Regions from separate parts of the Homo sapiens genome. Here region 1 is linked to region 2. The links come from fine-mapping of genetic effects on gene expression. A gene starts in region 2. The other region holds a variant in brackets. All regions are shown on one strand. Distances are between the middles of the regions.

Region 1 (10,127 bases), 27 kb before region 2:
AGTTTGAGACCAGCCTGGCCAAGATGGCGAAACCCTGTCTCTACTAAAAATACAAAAATTAGCTGGGCGTGGTGGCACGCGCCTGTAATCCCAGCTACTTGGGAGGCCGAGGCAGGAGAATCGTTTGAACCCAGGAGGCAGAGGCTGCAGTGAGCGGACATTGCATCACTGTACTCCAGCCTGGGTGACAGAGTGAGACCCTGTCTCAAAAAAAATAAAAATAAAAAAGAGAGAGAGACTGAGAGGGGTGCCCACCTGAGAGCTAGAGGCAGGAGCTTACCTGGCTGCGGTAGCTGCAACGGCCGTGTGGAGCCTCCTCGCTTCCAGCCACAGGATCCCTCTGCAGACTGGTCCTTTGACCCAGAAGCCTCTCCCAGTATGGAGCGTGGTCAGGCTGATCCCAGGAAATGCTTCAGAAAAGAGTCTACTTTCGATTTCCAGAAACCACCTGACATAGATGTCTTCCGGGATTGGCTGCTGCTGATACTCCCCAGGGCCCCTCTCTTTTGTCTCAGCTCTGCCTGTGGCTATCAGTGCCAGGCTGGCAGAGGCCCAAGGTGGGAGTCTGGCTGGAGCAAGGCCTGCAAGAGGACTAACAGCCACACTCAGTTGGAAAGGCCGCCAGGCTGGTCAGGGGCTGGCGTTTGGTGGACGGGAGGGGAAGAAGCAGAGGCTCTGGGCCCAGACAGTCTGCACCTGGTGGTGTGGCTGTGGACTCTGACAGAGCGCTCCGAGTCTTTTCCTGGGTCTAGCACGTTGCTGGCTGGGTGAACACCACACAGGGGGCTGCTTATGTGCAAATCCACCCTCTCTGTGCTCTTGGCATGCTGACCACACAGAGGGCCTGTGCCCCACAAGGTTGCATGGCACTGTCCCCTGTCCCCAGGGGAGGGAGGCACTGAGAACCAGGTATGCAGCTGGCCAGTGGAGGAGCTGGACCCTGCTCCAACACCTGACCCCAGAGCCTGTGCTCGCCACTGCTGGACCTGTGGCCACTCTCCTACTGTCTCCCCCTCAGCGGGGCGGGGGACAGAGCCTCTCTGGGTGACATAATGGCTCTGTCCAGCTCATACCCATTCCCTTTCCTCCCACTGAAAGCCGGCACCTCAACTGTCCCTTGGGGAGCACCCCCTCCCATTCCCGGCTGTGTGGTTCCCAGAGGGCCCCCAGCTCTTGGCCTTCAACCACCCAAGGCCTGGCTGTCTGAGCCCTGCGGGGGCCCCGGGCCACACTGCTGGTTTCAGGGTGGGGCTGTGAGCCCAGCCAGCCGGTGAGAGCCAGCTTCTGACTGAGAGGATGTGGGCCCAGGCTGCTGGGGCCGGTGGGGCAGAGCAGAGGGAAGCAGGCATCCTCCGGCCTGAGCTCCTGGGTCCAGCTGGCCTAATCCATGGTCAAGGCTGGGCTTCACCGCTCAGTGAGGCAATCAGCAGCCGCTCTTGTTTCTGTCACTTGCACCCCATGGTTCTGGATGAGCCTTGGGATGTGCCCAGGCCTCTGACCAGTGGTTCTCAGCCTGGGCTGGACAGAAGAATCATCAGGGAGTTTTACAAACTCCTAATGCCTAGACCCAGGAAGTCACCATCTCTGGGAGTAGGGGACAGGCAGGGGCATTTAAAAGCCCCCAGGCAGTCCCACTGGGTGGAAGGCCCTGGTTCCCTGGCAGCTTAGAGTCCGAGACAGCCAGCCCAGAGGTCAGACATTCAATGACTATTTCCTTCAAGGTGTGAGGTTTTAGGCAGCTGCACGGTTTGCCTAATCCCCTCCAGAGGAACTGTGAAGATCCAGGGGCAGGTGCAGCTGGAAATAGAACTGGCTGTGGGGAGTTTAAAAAAATCTCATCTGGATTAAGGGCCTGAGTGCACAGAAACCCCAGCATCATCCCTTCTCAGCAGTGCTAATGACTTCTGCCCAAGTGGCCAGGGAAGGACAGGAGTGCAGAGGACGGGAGGGCATCTCTGGGAAGTGCTGGGAAAGGTTTTAAAACTCAGGTGCCGAATCTTTAGCCCCAGAGTCCGGGAAAGTCCTAAGCCATCCAGGCAGGTAAAATGGAAAACCCAGAGGCCTCCTCGTGGAATCGGAGCACCAACATCTGCTCCCCTGGGGCTCGCAAGGCCTTTCCGGTGTGCGATGACCATGGGGTGGAGGGAAGCGCTGACAGGGGACAGGCAGGGGAAGGGGCAGCGGCTCGGCTCTGAGAAGACAGCTGGGTGAAAGCCTCAGATTCGTGTGGACAGAACTGCTGTCATCAGGAAGCCGCTCCCAAGACATGGTAGGGAAAGTGCGGGGCATTTCAGAGATGAGAATGGTTAACTGGCCTGTAAGGTCATCTTTTGTGCCTCTACCCCAAACCTCTCCGCAAATTGAGGAACGCTCCCTATAATAGCTAATATGGATTTCGCCAGGCATTACTATAAGCCTTGCCACAAATGAATGCATTTAATACTTCCAGCCATGATGGGAAGCAGCTGCTCTTATATTCCCTGTTACAGATGAGAAAACAGAGGCTCAGTGAGGCGACGTAATCGGCTAAAGTTGTGCAGCTGGTAGGGGAAGAACTGGGGTTTCAAACCCATCCTTTCCTTCTTTTTAAAAATTGGCTTTCTTGGCATATAATTTACGTGCAAAGTTTTGGCAAATGTGTAGCGATGGTATCATGACAACAATCATTACCTAGGGCGTTTCAATCACCCCTAAGAATTCTCTTATGCCCCTCTGCAGCCACCCCTCCCCCCAGCCCCTTCCCAGCAACCACCTCTCAGCTTCTGCCACTGCTGGTTGCCTTTCCTAGAATTCCCTCTATTTTGTCTTCTTTTTTAAGACACAGTCTCCCTCCATTGCCCAGGCTGGAGTGCAGTGGAACAATCTCGGCTCACTGCAATCTCTGCCTCTCAGGTCCAAGTGATTCTCCTGCCTCGGCCTCCCGAGTAGCTGGGATTACAGGTGCGCCCACCACCACGCCCAGCTAATTTTTGTATTTTTAGTAGAGAAGGGGTTTCTCCACATTGGCCAGGCTGGCCTCGAACCCCTGAACTCAGGTGATCCGCCTGCCTCTGCCTCCCAAAGTGCTGGGATTACAGGCATGAGGCACCACTCCTGGACCCTAGAATTCCCTCTAAATGGAATCATACAGTATTTAATATTTTGCATGTGGCTTCTTTTACTTACCACAGTGCTTCTGAGATCCATCCATGCTATCTCAACAATCAGTAACTGGCTCCTGGTTTTGCTGGGTGGCGGCCCACTGTATGGACAGAACACCACTGTTAATACATGTTTGCACTGATGGACATTTGGGTCATTCCATCTTCCACTATTATGCATAAAGCTGCTGGAAACATTTGGATACAAGTCTTTGTGTGAAAATAAGTATTTATTTTGTGTAAATACCTAGGAGCAGGATTACTGGGTCATATGGTAGATATATGTTTACCTTTTTAAGAAACTACCCAGCACTTCAGGAGGCTGAGGTGGGTAGATCACGAGGTCAGGAGTTCAAGACCAGCCTGGTCAAGATGGTGAAACCCCGTGTCTACAAAAAAATACAAAAATTAGCCAAACATGGTGGTAGGCGCCTGTAATCCCAGCTATTCGGGAGGCTGAGGCAGGAGAATCGCTTGAACCCAGGAGGCAGAGGTTGCAGTGAGCCGAGATCACACCACGGTACTCCAGCCTGGGCAACAGAGCGAGATGCCGTCTCAAAAAAAAAAAAAAGAAAAGAAACTGTTTTCCAAAGTTGCTGAAACATTTTGCATTCTTGCTAGTAATTTCTTCATGTTCCAGTGGTTTAAATCGTCACCAATACTTGGTATTGTCAGTCTTTAAATTTCATCCATTCTGGTGGGCATGTAGTGAAGTTTCATTGTGGTTATAATGACGAATGATAGGCCGGGTGCTGTGGCTCACGCCTGTAATCCCAGCACTTTGGGAAGCTGAGGTGGGCAGATCACCTGAGGTCAGGAGTTTGAGACTAGCCTGATCAACATGGAGAAACCCCATCTCAACTAAAAAATACAAAAAAATTAGCCGGGCGTGGTGGCGCATGCCTGTAATCCCAGCTACTTGGCAGGCTGAGGCAGGAGAATCACTAGAACCTGGAAGGCAGAGGTTGCAGTGAGCCGAGATCGTGCCATTGCACTCCAGCCTGGGCAACAAGAGTGAAACTCCGTCTCAAAAAAACA[G/GA]AAAAAAAAAAAAAAGACGAATGATGTTGAGCATCTTTATGCTTCTCTGTCATTCACACATCCTCTTTGGCAAAGCGTCTGTTCAAATCTTATGCACGTTTGAAAACTGGCTTGTTTGTTGTGTAAGTTCTTTATATATATTCTGTTCCTGTAGCAGATATATGATTTGCACTTTTATTTTTAATGAAAAGCTTGCTTTTCATTATCTTTTTTTTTTTTTCTTTTTTTTGAGACAGAGTCTCGTTCTGTCGCCCAGGCTGGAGTGCAGTGGTGCGATCTCGGCTCATTGCAAGCTCCGCCTCCCGGGTTCAAGCCATTCTCTTGCCTCAGCCTCCCGAGTAGCTGGGACTACAGGCGCCCGCCACCATGCCGGCTAATTTTTTGTATTTTTTTAAGTAGAGACGGGGTTTCACCATGTTGGCCAGGATGTTCTCGATCTCTTGACCTCGTGATCCACCCACCTCCGCCCCACAAAGTGCTGGGATTATAGGCGTGAGCCACCACGCCTGGTGAGCAGAGGGTGACTGAATAGAATGGGAGGCAGGATGGCCCTAATCAGTCCCAGCTTGACTTTTCCCTTTAGCTGGTGATTTTGGGGCCCAAGATATTTTCCTTTCACAACTCTGTTCTCTGTGGGAACAAATGACTTCAACTTTAAGGCAGGAGAATGGTGTGCACCCGGCAGGCAGAGGTTGCAGTGAGCCGAGATTGCGCCACTGCACTCCAGCCAGGGCGACAGAGAGAGACTCCGTCAAAAGAAAAAAAAAAGAATGTATCCATTTGTCTCTCATCTACCTGTGACCTGGAAGCCCCCTCCCCACTTGGAGTTGTCCTGCCTTTCCAGACTGAACCAATGTTCATTTTACATGTGTTGATTGATGTCTTATATCTCCCTAAAATGTATAAAACCAAGCTGTGCCCTGACCACCTTGGGCACACACTGCCAGGCCCTCCTGAGGCTGTGTCAGGGGCGCCCACGTCCTCAACCTTGGCAAAATAAACTCTAAATTAACTGAGCCCGGCTGGGCGCGGTGGCTCACGCCTGTAATCCCAGCACTTTGGGAGGGTGAGGAGGGCAGATCACTTGAGGTCAGGAGTTCAAGACCCGCCTGGCCAACATGGTGAAACCCCATCAATACCGAAAATATAAAAAATGAGCTGGGTGTGGTGGTGCACACCTGTAATCCCAGCTACTCGGAAGGCTGAGGCAGGAAAATCACTTAAACCTGGGAGGTAGAGGTTGCAGTGAGCCAAGATCACACCACTGCACTACAGCCTGTCAGGAGAGAGATTCTGTCCCAAATAAATAAATAAATAAATAAAATAAAGTAAATTAACTGAGGCCTGTCTCAAATTTTCAGGGTTCACAGGGTTGTCCCAGCACCATGGTGGGAAGACAGTCTTTTGTATTTCAGGTGAATTACCCTGGCTCTTTTGTCAAAAGTCAATGGGCCACATCCATAAGGGTCTATTTCTGGACCCTATTCTGTCTCACTTGTCGGTGTCTGTTTTTCTTATGGCAATACTACACTGTTTTGATTACTTACAGCATTATATTAAGTCTTGAAGCCAGATAGTATAAGTCCTTCAACTTTGCTTTTCTTTTTCAAAATCAAGTCTGTAGACCCATGAAGACGTATACTGTTTTGTTCTTTTGAGTCTCTGATTTCTTTCATCAGTGTTTTGTAGTTTCAGGATGTAGATGTCACACATCTTTTGTTAGACTTATACGTAACTATTTCCCGATTTTTGGTGCTACTGTAATTGACAATGTTTAAAAATTTTACAATTTCTAGTTGTTCACTGCAGTTATAATAAAGTTAAATTTTGTATGTGGAATTAATATATTAATATGTTAAATATTAATGTATTAAATTTAACATATTAATATATATTAAATATTAATATATTAAATTTAGTATGTGTAGTTTCGTGGTTTTTTTGAGACAGAGTCTCGCTCTGTTACCCAGGCTGGAGTATAGTCGTACAAATACTGCTAACTGCAGCCCCAATCTCCTGGGCTCAAGTGATCCTCCCACTTCAGCCTCCCATGTAGCTGGGACCACAGGCAGGCGTGACCACATCCAGCTAATCTTTACATTTTTTTGTAGAGACAGGGTCTTGCTATGTTGCTCAGGCTGGTCTTGAACTCCTGGGCTTAAGTGATTCTCTTGCCTGAGCCTCCCAAAGTGCTGGGATTACTAAAGGCGTGAGCCACCATGCCTAGCCTCGTAGTTATTTTTTGAAGATTTCTTAGGCTTGTCTAGCTAGTCAAAGCTTGTCACTGGCGAATAAAGATAGTTCTATTCCTTCTTTTCAAATCTGAATAACTTCCTTTTTTTTTCTTTTGCACCAATAGGATGAGGAATAAAAGTGATGAGAGCAATGTCAGTTTCCTGGGTTTGGTAAATGTACTGTGCTTAGGTAATCAGTACACTGGAGGGAGCCACATGAATGCTGCACAGAAACACGACTGCTGGCCCCGCTTATCTGCAGTTTCACTTACTGCAGTTTCAGTTACCCACGGTCAACTGAGGTCTGAAAATATTAAATGGAAGATTCCAGAAATAATTCATAAGTTTTAAATTGCATACTGTTCCTAGTGGGATGAAATATTGTGTCATCCTGCTCTTTCCCTTCTTCATCACAAGGGCGAGTACAGTACACTAAGATATTTAGAGAGAGACCACATGCACATAACTCTTATTTTAGACTATTGTTCTAATTGTTCTATTTACTATGTTACTGTTAATCTCTTACTGTGCCTAATTTATGAATTAAGCTTTATCGCAGGTATGAATGTAGAACAGTAAATTCCACATTATCTATGGTTTCAGGCATCCACTGCGGGTCTTGGAATGTATCCCCCACAGAAGGGGGATATGAACCAAAAAGTATCTGAGACTGTTCTCAACCAGTTAATTTTGCCAAGGTCAAGGATAAGGCCAGGGAGGCAAAACAAAACGTGACAAAACACGGAATCGCTGAAACAGTCTGTGGTCTGTGCCTTTCTCCAAAGGTGACTTTGAGGGCTTCCATATTTAAAGGGGAAAAGCAGGCTGGAGGGGGAAGTGGGAGGGTCCGGTCCTAGTGCTGCCGCCACGGGTTGCAAGAGAAGAGAAGCAGGCAGGGGAACAGTCAATCGTGTATTCATCTGGTGCTCAGTAAATTGGCACTTCACATAAGATAAGGTGAGCACAGTAGCTACCTGCCGAGGTCTTTAGCCTTTCCTCTGTCGCTCTCTGCTTAGGAACAAGAGGAAAGGCAGCTGCTTGCATGACTCAGCTCTCAGCTTCCTGTTTTTTCCTATTGGAAGGGTGCATTGCGGTTTTTATTTTCCTTTCATAGGACCTACTGTATTTTTGCAACTTCTGTGTGGTTCAAAATTTTATTTCAAAGGAAAAAATGGTGGGGAAGAAAGTGGTGAAAGCAGACACTCTTGCGTTGTTCCTCAGGGGGAAGGCATTCAGTGTCTGACCGTGAAGTAGGAGCTTAGCTGTGGACTTCTCACCGGAGCCCTTCATCGGGTTAAGGATGTTCCCTAACGGGTTTTTTGGCTTTTTGTTTAGAATTGGATTGGGTGAATGGCTGTTAGATTCTGTCAAATGCTTTTTCTCTATCTTTTGAGATTATCATGCTTTTCCCCCTTTTTAGTCTTTTTTTTTTTTTTTTTTTTTTTTGAGATGGAGTCTCGCTCTGTCGCCCAGGCTGGAGAGCAATGGGATGATGTCGGTTCACTGCAACCTCCGCCTCTCAGGTTCAAGCGATTCTCCTGCCTCAGCCTCCCAAGTAGCTGGGACTATAGGTGCGCCCCACCACCCCCAGCTAATTTTTCGTGTTTTTAGTAGAGACGGGGTTTCACCATGTTGGCCAGGCTGGTCTCGAACTCCTGACCTCAAATGCCCACCTCAGCCTCCCAAAGTGCTGGGATTACAGGCATGAGCCACCACACCCTGCCCCTTTTTAGTCTTCATATGAATTTCATTGATTGATTTCAGAATACTGAACTAACCCTGTATTCCTAGAATAAACCACACCTATCGTGAAGTATTCTTGTCAGAGACGTTTGAACCAGAGCCACTCCATCTTGAACCAGGTCTGGGTAAATTACGGCTGAGACCTGCTGGGCTGCATTCCCAGGAGGTTAAGGCATTCTTAGTCACTGGAGACAGAAGGTTGGCACAAGATACAGGTCATACCTTGCTGATAAAACAGGCTGGCCGGGCGCAGTGGCTCACACCTGTAATCCCAGCACTTTGGGAGGCCGAGGCAGGCGAATCGCGAAGTCAGGAGTTTGAGACCAGCCTGGCCAACATGGTGAAACCCCATCTCTACTAAAAATATACAAATTAGCAGGGTGTTGTGGCGCACGACTGTAATCCCAGCTACTCGGGAGGCTGAGGCAGGAGAATCGCTTGAACCTGGGAGTCGGAGGATGCAGTGCGCTGAGATTGTGCCACTGCACTCCAGCCTGGGCAACAGAATGAGACTCCATCTCAAAAACAACAACAACAACAAAACAGGCTGCAGTAAAGCCGGCTAAAACCCACCAAAATCAAGCGGCGATGAGAGTGACCTCTGGCTGTCCTCACTGCTATGCTCCTGCAAGCACCATGATAAATGCCATGGCAACATGAGGAAGTTACCCTCTATGGTCTAAAAACGGGAGGCATGAAGAATCCACCCCTTGTTTAGCATATCCTCAAGAAATAACCATAAAAAGGGACAGTCAGCAGCCCTGGAGCTACTCTGCCTTTAGAGTTGCTATTCTTTATTCCTTTACTTTTTTTTTTGAGATGGAGTCTCACTCCATCGCACAGGCTGGAGTGCAGTGGCGCGATCTCGGCTCACTGTAACCTCCATCTCCCAGGTTCAAGCGATTCTCCTGCCTCAGCCTCCTGAGTAGCTGGGATTACAGACATGCACCGCCACGCCCAGCTGATTTTTATATTTTTAGTAGAGATGGGGTTTCACCATGTGGTCAGGCTGGTCTCCAACTCCTGATCTCGTGATTTGCCTGCCTCAGCCTCCCAAAGTGTTGGGATTACAGGCGTGAGCCACCGCACCTGGCCTACTTTCTTAATAAACTTGCTGTCACTTTACTCTATGGACGTGCCCAGAATTATTTCTTGTGTGAGCTCCAAGAACCCTCTCTTGGTGACCTGAATCAGACCCCTTTCCGGTAACATTCTAATTTTTGATTATTGCTGAATTTGGCTTGCTAATCTGTGCTAAGGATTCTTTTTTTATTTTTTATTTTTATTTATTTTTTTTTTTTGAGACGGAGTCTCGCTCTGTCACCCAGGCTGGAGTGCAGTGGCGCGATCTCGACTCACTGTAAGCTCTGCCTCCTGGGTTCATGCCATTCTCCTGCCTCAGCCTCCCGAGTAGCTGGGACTACAGGTGCCCGCCACTGTGCCCGGCTAACTTTTTTGTATTTTTTAGTAGAGATGGGGTTTCACTGTGTTAGCCAGGATGCTCTCAATCTCCTGACCTCGTGATCTACCCGCCTCGGCCTCCCAAAGTGCTGGGATTACAGGCGTGAGCCACTGCTCCTGGCCAGGATTTTTACATCTATGTTCATGAGGGATACTGGTCTGTATTTTTTTTTTTTGTAATGTATTTTTCTGGTTTTGGTATCAGTATAGTGGTGCCCTCATAAAATGAGTTGGAAAAGTTTCCCAACTCCCAGAATCATGGAAGATTTTGTGTTGCTTTCGTATTATTTCTCCCTTACATGTTTGGTACAATTCAAAAGTGAAGCCATCTGGGCCAGGGGTTTTCACAGTGTGACGGTATTTTATTTTTGCTTTAACTCTTTTAACAGCATGAAGGGATAACTTACCTTGAGATTTATCAATTTAAAGTGTACCGTGGGCCGGGCGCGGTGGCTCACACCTGTAATCCCAGCACTTTGGGAGGCCGAGGCGGGCAGATCACAAGGTCAGG
Region 2 (10,127 bases):
ACGGGCCATGGCTCCATTCTCATGCCTCTTCCAGCTTCTGGAGGCACCCACATTCCCTGCCTGGTGGCCCCTCCTCCCCCTCCAAAGCCCGCCCACTGCACTTCCCCAAGGCTCTTGGCCATCATCTCCCTCCGGCTCTTCTGCTTCCCTCTTCTGTTCTTAAGGACCCTGTGATTACACTGGGCTCCCTGGGAAAATCCAGGATCATCTCACTACTTTAAGGCCGGCTGATCAGCAACCTTAATTCCCCTTTGCCATGTAATGTAACATATTCACAGGCTCAGAAGGTAGGACGTGGACATCTCGGGGAGCTGTTCCTCCACCAATCACAGGAGGAAGAGGGGAAAGAGCCTCCAGGTTTTTCCAAGGGCCAGGACCAGTCACTGTCTATGGTGTGGGCGCACAGCTTCAGAACCCTCTACGGTTTGCAGTTACTGCCTTGTAAAGAGGCTGTGTCTGCTTAATTTGTATCATCGATGTTACACCTGGAGGAATTTTAGCCAAAAGGCGACCTTCTCAGTTGAAAGGCACATTCCAAATGGCACCACACATCTGGGAAGGTGTCCTTTTCCAGAGTGTGTGAAAATAACGGGATGGGATCATCGCCCCATGGACCTGGATCAGGGCTGCCTTCCACACCGCGGTGGCACCTGCACGAGCCCACCTGCTTACTGCCACCTTCTCTCCTCACGCTTTCCTCCAGGCTCGGCTCCCGGGACACAAAGGCCGAATCGCCAGGACTTTCACTCAACCCGGCAACACCCTCAGAGCCATTCTGGGGGGTCCCAGTCTCACCTCTGCCCCACTCCCACATGGTGGCATCACGCACTGTCTTAAGTCTTAAGCCAGACTTCAACGCCTTCTTCACTTCCCATAAAACCATCCCAGAGGAACGCGGGGAGCAGCGTCCTGCCTGGGAACCAGGCGCTCCACATGACCACTGCACGCATGACAAAGACGAGCAGGGTCCAAAACAAAAAACAGAACGTCTCCCCAAACAGACTTCTCTACTGCCAGGATGATTTTTTCCTAATTAACCATCTTGATTAAAGTAAAAGGAAAATCAACATGAACATTCTTAAGAATTAATATAAAAGTTTCTAATTCCCTTGATATTGGCATTTCATAAGAGCTTTCCAGGAAATCTCGATAGTTCAGAGTGCACTGAGTGAAAAGAATGAATGCTGTGTGTCCTTGGCATCCCTGGTACCATTCAACAAACAATAGAAAAATGACCTCCTTGTGATAGTACTGACCCATTTCAGGACCTGGACAATAGTTCCAAGTCTCAGATCTTCTGTTTTTGAAAGAGAAAACACTACAGCATTTATACATCTACCTATCTACCTATACGGTTGCCAGAAAGTACCGAGACTCCGAGGACGGGCCATATGTACTTGGGGGAGCCTGCACAGGCACACACACCTCGAAAGCCACATCCAGGTGGCAGGGTAAAAACACCCACAGGGCCAGGAGAACTGCTGCTACCACACCCTGGGTCTCCTCACGTACTCTGCAGCTCAGGGGGGTCCTGCAGACCAGGTGCACAGTGACGGGTGAGTGAAAACGTTCTGGAGTACCAAGAGCTTTTACACCAACACATTTACTAAGCTGCCATGGGCTAGGAAAATATGGTTATAGCCTAAGGGGAAGAAAGGAGACCTCTGGCAATCAGAAGCGTCAAGCCTCAGATGTGCCCCTCCAGCGAGGTGTCCCAGGGTCCAGGGGTCCTATCCCGCTGCGAGTGGAGGGTTCCCTCTACCACCTTGTGACATGTCATTCTCTTTTGTGATCACGTTAATTTGGACATGAAAAAGTGACACTAGAAGTTGGTCCCCACACTGCTGCGGTGGCCTCATGACAGTGCCTGGACAAATCCATGCTTCACCTGAGTCCTGGCCGTGAAGATGCCTGGGGCTGCCCCGACAGGAAACCCTTGCCACGTCCAGAGGGGAGAGGGTTGGCTCCTTCAGTGTGCCTTTCAGCAGGGGCGTGTGCTAGGATAGAGGGCTCATTGAGGCCAGCAGGGAGGAGCACCTGGGAGGAGCCCCACTGCCGTTCCACAGGCTCCAGCCAGACTGTCCTGCTGAGAGGCCTGCGGTGGGGCTGCAGGGAGGGTCTGTGGTCCAGGCCTGGAGGGACCTTTCTCAGCAAAGCTCCTCAGAGGGAGAGGGAGGAAGAGCTGGGAGATAGCGGATCCTGAAGGGCTGCGGCACCCGCTTCCTTTTAGGAGCCTTCTACGACCTGACACTTGTTTCAAGTTTGGGCCCTTACACTGGAGAGCTAGCCGGATTCACTTGACACCAAGAGCCTCACATTTCCAAACCTCTGCTTTGTTGAAAATGTGGTAGGAAAGGCCATAGGGCATACAACCTCAAGAATAAAATAAGAAATGGAGCTGGGACACTAAGAGACGGCTTTTCCAGGGGTCACTAAGGGGGAAAGGTGTTTGGGAGAGAGATGTGTCTGCTGATGGAAGAGTGGTCACAGGTGCTCTGTGCCAAGCCTAGGGTACACAGAGGGCAAGGGAAAGACCATTCGGAGGGAGAAGCAAAGGCACCAGGCAACATGGACTGGCAAGGAGGTACCAGTCTCCAAGGATGAGAGAATCCAGACCGGATGGCAGTAGGGGTGTGAGACAGGTATGGTGGGGAGGGCGAATCATTTGCATGCAGGAAGATGAGAGTGAGCTGTGTGCCTGGAGGAAGGCTCCAAATTGGATGAGGGCAGGGAGAGCAAGGACTGGGATGGGGTGGGGAAGGTTGGCCTGTTACAGGTTTGACCAAGTGCCAGTCAGAGGGAGAAAATTCCCTTATCAGTCCAAGGAGACCCTGCATAGACCAGAGGAGGGGTATTTGAAGTCAGAAGGTGGTGGGAGGGGGTCATTCCCAGGAGGGGTGCCCCACACTAGCCAGAGCGGGGAGGCGTCCCACACTAATCAGAGGGGGATGGTCCCCACACTAACCAGAGGGGGAGGTGCCCCACATGAATCAGAGGGGGGTGGTCCCCACACTAATCAGAGCGGGGAGGTGCCCCACAGTAATCAGAGGGGGATGGTCCCCAAACTAATTAGAAGGGGGGTGTCCCACACTAATCAGAGCGGGGAGGAGTCACATAATCAGAGGGGGGAGGTGCCCACACTAATCAGAGGGGAATGGTCCCCACACTAATTAGAGAGGAGGGGTGCCCACACTAACCAGAGGGTAATGGTCCCCACGCTAGTCCCAGGGATGAGGTGTCCCAAAAGTCAGAGGGGGTGGTGTCCACCGCCTGTCGGAAGAAGGGGACTTTCCCACAGGTCAGAGGGCAGAGTCCCAGCCCAGTCTGCGAGTCAGGGGGCAGAGATCCCGCACGGGTGGGACGGGAAGGGGGCCTGACGGGTCAGGGGGCGGGACGCGGCAGGGTCGGAGGGCGGCGGCAGGCTCCGGGACGGGGGTCCGGGCCCGTGGCTGGGGCAGGGCGCCGGCGGCCGCGGGCGCAGTCACTCACCCGCTGCGGGGCTGGCTCCGGTGCCCGCGATCGGCGGGGCTTGGCTGGGCTTGGCTGGGCTTGGCTGGGCTAACGGCCGGGACGGAGGAAGGTGGCCGACTTCCGCCCCGCGCGCGCTCGCCCCGCCTCTGGGCCCGCGTTCCCGGCAGCCTCTGCTCTGCGGCTGCGCGCGGACGGCGCGAGGGCTGCTGGGAGCTGTGGTTTGTGTTTTTTTGGGTTTTTTTTTTGTTGTTTTTTTGTGTTTTTTTTTTCCGTCCTGCGCCTGCGCGCTGGAGGAGCGGCCGGCTGGCTGCAGGCTGGAGGGGCGCGAGGGTCCGCACTGGCACATGAGGGCCGTCTTCCACCGCGTTGCGCTGGAACGTGGGCCCAGCAGATCTTTTGGGGTGGGAGGCATTGAGGGGGGTGAAGGCTACTAGGGAGGGAAGTTCTCATTCTCCGAGCGAGGGCCCCCTTACATGGGCCTCCCGACCCTCGTAGTCTTGGGAGGCGGAAAACCGTGGGCCCCTTTCTGCCATCCTCATTCTCAGGCAGCCCCTCTCCTTGGCCCTTCAAAACAGCCGCCTCCAGAGTGCTGCTGACCAGTTGCCAAAGCCAGGATCAGGGAGGTCTAAGGCTGTAGTGTCCTGGGGTGGGGACGGTGGGGTGTTTCCCTGCAAAAAATCTGCAGTTGACAAACCTGCCAAACAAGGGTCTCTGATTTCTCCTTTCCCCTCCGTAGCCCTAGCCCCCGAGATATTTTAGGGCACTCTGTTAAAAGGCTTCCCCGGCCCCGCCCTCCTCCATCCCAAAGTTCTGAGAAAGGCCTGGTGGCCGTGGAGCCTCTGGCAGGAGAGCTTGGCAGAAGGGTGCACCAGCCCCCTGCCCATCTGCACCTTCAGCTTTCCTGCTTGATACCAGCTACTTCCCCCAGCTCTCTCAAAACCTTCCGTTCAGTAAAAGATACACAAGAGGAGGAATTCAAATTATATAAATGGTACGCAATGAAAAATAAGCCTCCCATTGCCGTTCTGTATTCCCTGCCCAGAGGCGATCACTAGATGTTATATGGTATCCAAACAAGTCATAAACACGTATCTTAAATTACCTTTAACTAAATAGAAATGTGCTAAACACTGTTATGCACTTTTGGTTTTTGATTTTGGAGAGGAGACAAACCTTTCTTGAATTCATTAATGTTTCTTGTCATGCTAAACTGAGTCCCAACCATGTCTCACATAATACTCATTATTGTCAGGCCTCTGAGCCCAAGCTAAGCCATCATATCCCCTGTGACCTGCACATATACATCCAGATGGCCTGAAGCAACTGAAGAACCACAAAAGATGACATTCCACCATTGTGATCTGTTCCTGCCCCACCCTCACTGATCAATTGACCTTATGACAATACACCCTCCCCACCCTTAGGATAATGTACTTCGTGATATTCCCTCACCCTTAAGAAGGTACTTTGTAATATTTTTCCCACCCTTGAGAATGTACTTTGTGAGATCCACCCCCTGCCCACAAAAAATTGCTCCTAACTCCACCACCTATCCCAAACCTATAAGAACTAATGATAATCCCACTACTCTTTGCTGACTCCTTTCTCGGACTCCGCCCACTTGCACCCAGGTGAAATAAACAGTCTTGTTGCTCACACAAGGCCCGTTGGTGGAATCTCTTCACATGGACGCATGTGACAATTATATTTGAATCTTTTATTTTCTAAAAGATCCACATGTGCCTTCCAGCTTAAGAAATAACACATTATTCCTGCATCTTTAAAACTCTCCAGGTTCTTCCTGTTCTGTACTCCCTGCTACCCCCAAGAGGTGGTAGCCACAATACTGAATGTTGTGTTAATCATTCTGTTGCCTTACTTTATAATTTTAGCACATAGGTATGTATCCCTAAACAATATATTGTTTAATTCTGTCTATTTTAACCTTTATAAAATGAAATAAAACTGTATGCAATAATTGAGAGATCCAGTGGCTCTCTCAGAGGCCTTCGAACCAGAGCAACACCATCTTGAATAAGGGCTGGGTAAATGAGACCTGCTGGGCTGCATTCCCAGGAAATTAGGCATTCTTAGTCACAGGATGAGATAGGAGGTTACAAGATACGGGTCACAGAGACCCTGCTGATGAAACAGGATGCAGTAAAGAAGCTGGTCAAAACCCTCCAAATCCAGGATGGCAATGAAAGTGACCTCTGGCTGTCCTTGCTGCTAATTATACCCTAATTATAATGTATTAGCATGCTGAAAGACACTCCCACCAGCACCATGATGATTTACAAATGCCATGGCAACGTCAGGAAGTTACCCTAGATGTTCTAACGGGGAAGAACCCTCAGTTCCAAGGAAATCTCCTCCCCTTTCCCAGAAAACTCATGAATAATCCACCCCTTGTTTATCATATGAGCGAGAAATAACCATAAAAATAGCCAACCAGCAGCCCTTGTGGCTGCTGTGCCCATGGAGTAGCCATTCTTTTATTGCTTTACTTTCTTCATAAACTTGCTTTCACTTTACTCTGCGGACTTGCCCCAGATTCTTTCTTGTGGAAAATCCAAGAACCCTCTCTTGGGGCCTGGACTGGAACCCCTTTCTGATAACATCTTGCTGAGAAACCATGAAGGGACAACACTGGAGAGACCTCTGACCCAAGGGAAATAGACTTCAGCACCAGTTGACCAACTTTGGGTACATGGTGGGGTATTTTATCCAGGGTAATGGATGGAATTGGGTTAGAGGCCCAAATTAGGAGAGTTAGAGTCCCTCCTAAGACACAGGGAGTTAGAGGCCCCTCTTTGTAAAGAACAAGAATGCTTGTTCAAACTTGGGTTGAAGGCTCAACTTCAGAATGTTAGAGGCCACCCTTAGTAAGAGCCCTCTTGGTTAAAAATGGATTCAGCACTGCAGGATGTTAACCGCCATTCTATTTGGATTAATTTGCCATGCCCTCTTTGCTGATGGCTGTGGGTGACAAGATTAGGCATGTGCAGGATCATGGGACCTGGGGAGCTTTTTTTCCTCCCCCAAAGGGGAAAACTTGAGAGCTGATGGGACTGCTGGAAAAGATCCCTTTTTGACAAGCAGCTGTCTGAACTTTTGATTCAGTGTCACTGTGATGGATGGGTCTTTCTCTGGCTTCTGTGAGCTCCTCACCTCTGCAACCCACCACAGGCAACACTCTTCTCCCTTCCCTTTCCTCTCTCTCGTTCTCGCCTTTCCCTTGTCTGTCTTCTCTGTCACTCTGGGTGATGATCTACTCTTCCATCTTGCCCAAAAACCACCTGTTGAAACTCCTGGTTGGCAGTCATTCCGCCCCCACTTTGAATGGATTAAACACTACAGGGGCCAATGGGGGAAGTTTTGAGCCTTGCCAGGTCGATATTGGGTGCTGAGGGGGGTGGCTAGTGTCTGTGTTTTGTCAAGTGCACTTTGTTCTGGCCAGAATGGAAAATGTTGATTCGATTCCTCCATGCAACTTGTTGTGTAGCATCTTGCAAAATTGAGAGGCTTTTCCTATGGTTCCATGAAATGGAAAAGGGTGATTTTTGCTTTGCGATGTGGCTTGGCCCCCACAGTTATGGTGCTGTGAGCAGGGTCACGAGGGCTGCTTAGGGAAAGGGATCCCAGAAACCTGGCATGCTGGCAAAAGGGTAAGAATTTCTTACCAGTCAGGCCTTTGGTCTCTCTCTCTCTATGCAAACCAGTTGAGTGAATGGTAAAAATCACTGTCTCCTCTGCAAGGTTTTGATGAATGGGAAAAAGGATTTGTGAGGCTAGTCTTAGGCTGTGATGAATCTGGTGTACTTTGTGCTATGAATTTGGCTTTCTGTGTCATTCTGTCATAAAAGGGGTATCATAGGATAGAATGTGGCCCTAGGACCCCTGTAAGCCCACTATTCAAGCTGGCCCAGCAAACTGGTCAGTTGACAACTTTGCTTCAGGTCACTGAAACAAAAACTGGATGAGGATTCCCCCTCGTCTTGTTTTATGTCCTTGGGAGCTTGACTTGTGACCATGGAGGGGTATTTTCTCTTGGTCTGTACCATCCCTGTGAGTCATGTTTTACAACCAAAATATATAAAAGAGCTCTATTTAATTGGCTTAAATAAAAATAAGCACTTAAATAAAATATTTTGCCAGAAAAATTAAAATGCTAATGCCTTTTTGTTCACATGACTTTAGTCATCTTTGGAAAAGCAAGGCAGTTTTAAAGATTATTGGTAAAATAAAAATGTCTTTGAAATTTAGACATTTGGTCTAAATTAGGCAGGTCAGATACTAGGTTTACTAAACTACTTCTCTGACTTTTGATAATTGTTCAATTTACCTTCTTTGGAGCCATTAGCGTCTATGTAAGGCCTGGGAACATATGGAGTTAGCCATGCCCCTAGCTATGCTGGAAGGGGTCAGACCTTATCTGCACTTTTGTCTGGTGCCCCAAGCTCTACACCTGGTACACAAATAAAATCACTTACCAAATTTTTCGCCAAAAATAAAAGTTGCTAAGAGTTAACATTGTACCATATGTAACTGAGGTTACTGGAGGAACACTTTTACATGCACAGTGTGTAAGGAAAGTATAATGTGTGTTTGGTAAAAGATTATAAGAAGGCATGGGAAGGCAGGGTGTTTTTGCCTGGTTTGGAAGTTTAAAGAGTTGTTCTTAGATAGGAGAAAGCGGAAGGTCTAAGCAAGTCGTGGAAGGTTTGTGAAAGTCTAATCTTGTAAAAGCAATTCTCTGTGTTAACATATTGGCTAAAGTTAAAGGAGTATTATTTGGTTTTTCCATAAATTGAACATTGGAATAAAAGCACAACAGGGTTTTCTTAGAGCATTGGTCTACTCTTTAACAAAAAAAATTGTAAAGGGTTATAAAAGCTTTATGAAAATCTTACATTATGGTCAAACTGATTGAAGTTAGGAAAATTTGTCTGTAAAGTTTTACTAGGAATTGAATTTGACATCAATAGTACACTCATGCAAAGATGAAATTTGGCTTTCTCTCTTGAACAAGATTTTCATGTAATATTAAAAGATAATGAAAGATTTTTGTTTACCTTTTAAATAAACTACAGGAGAAAGAAGGGAAAGAAAAGATTGTTTGAAGAGCTAAATCTTCCCTCTATCAATGAGTAAAGCCTTTTGCCTTTTTTAAATTGTTGAGTTAACATTTTGGCTAAATAAATGACTTACAGTGACCTGGAATTTTATGTTATAATATCAAGTGTTTTAAACTTTTGATATTTGACGAACTTTCCAAAATCAGATTCTAAATATGTCTTTTTCTGACCTGATTAATCATTTTAGATGGTAAAAACCCTAAAGTCCAAAAGAGACTTATTTGGCTTATTTGGTATATTAAAATCATACAGGAAGCATTATCAAGTATGAAATGGTGTTTGGCTTTCTTTAGACCATATTTGTATAAATATATTATTGGTATGCATTCTAAAATTATGGGAAATTCCTATAATGACCTAGGTGTATGTTATTGGTGACTTAGTGTATGTTATCAGTAATAATTATAATTGTTATGTAAAATTGTATGCTACAGAAGTAATGAAATTTCCTTGTCAATTGCATCTTTGACTGTGGCTATCCTAAGACTTTTTTGTCATTCAGAGACAATTATTGTCTTGTTTTAATCCTCTTCAAAAGAAGGTTTATAACCAGCTATAGGATGCTGACAATTACTCTTAAATGCGAGTGTCTGATAACTTTGGAAAGTGTGCCATTAAAATAGAGAGGAAAAAAAAGCTTCCAAGACTCTTTTGGAAAGCTAATGTGTTCTTAAATATTGAGCAAAACAGAAATTAATTGTATAGACTAATGAAAGACTGAAATAATCTTTTTACGACTTTTTGCATAAAATATTGCTGTTCCTTTCTGTTTTGTTTTCCAAGTCGAGCAAACTTTTTTATTTTTTATTTTTTTTATTTTGAGATGGAGTCTCGCTCTGTCGCCCAGGCTGGAGTGCAGTGGCGTGATCTCGGCTCACTGCAAGCTCCGCCTCCCGGGTTCATGCCATTCTCCTGCCTCAGCCTCCCAAGTAGCTGGGACTACAAGAGCCCGCCACCACAACTGGCTAATTTTTTGTATTTTTAGTAGAGACAGGGTTTCACCCTGTTAGTGAGGATGGTCTCGATCTCCTTACCTCTTGATCCGCCCGCCTCGGCCTCCCAAAGTGCTGGGATTACAGGCGTGAGCCACCGTGCCCGGCCAAACTTTTCTTTTGAACTCTTTACAGCTTTTAACAGTTGAGTAAAATACACTCCTGTAAACAAAATTTGGAGCATATTTCTTTCTCTCTACCTGATTTCTCCAAAAATTGAAAACTATTTGTGAGTATTCTTAACTTATGGCTATATATTAATAGTTATTTGCATAAGTGCAGTAAGAATCTGTTTTCTTTTGTAACAGGACACAATTGGAGAAATTGGGTTTTACTAAGGCTTTGAATGGAATGGCGTGCTTTCAAATATAAAAAAAACTGCCTTAAGGAATCAAAGTTGACTTATAGAGCTAATAAAAGGCCCTTGGAAAAACTGGCTTTATACCTTGTCTATGCAGTCCCTGTACAGGGTTCCTGCCATGTGGTAAGTAAAGAATGTCACTTTGTGACAGGTTCAGGAGCCCTA

The links.
Region 1: its variant is fine-mapped to the expression of CANT1 in whole blood (INTERVAL, PIP above 0.99).

What each region holds. Positions count from the first base shown.
Region 1 is chr17:78,979,544-78,989,670 of GRCh38, forward strand. It overlaps LGALS3BP (galectin 3 binding protein), which reads right to left and starts at 380. Exons shown (of 6, transcript NM_005567.4): 1 at 281-380. RefSeq lists an enhancer at 414-1,406. The variant G/GA (reference allele first, on the strand shown) is at 4,179.
Region 2 is chr17:79,006,175-79,016,301 of GRCh38, forward strand. It overlaps CANT1 (calcium activated nucleotidase 1), which reads right to left and starts at 3,590. Exons shown (of 5, transcript NM_001159773.2): 1 at 3,490-3,590. RefSeq lists a silencer at 3,310-3,689 and an enhancer at 3,930-3,979.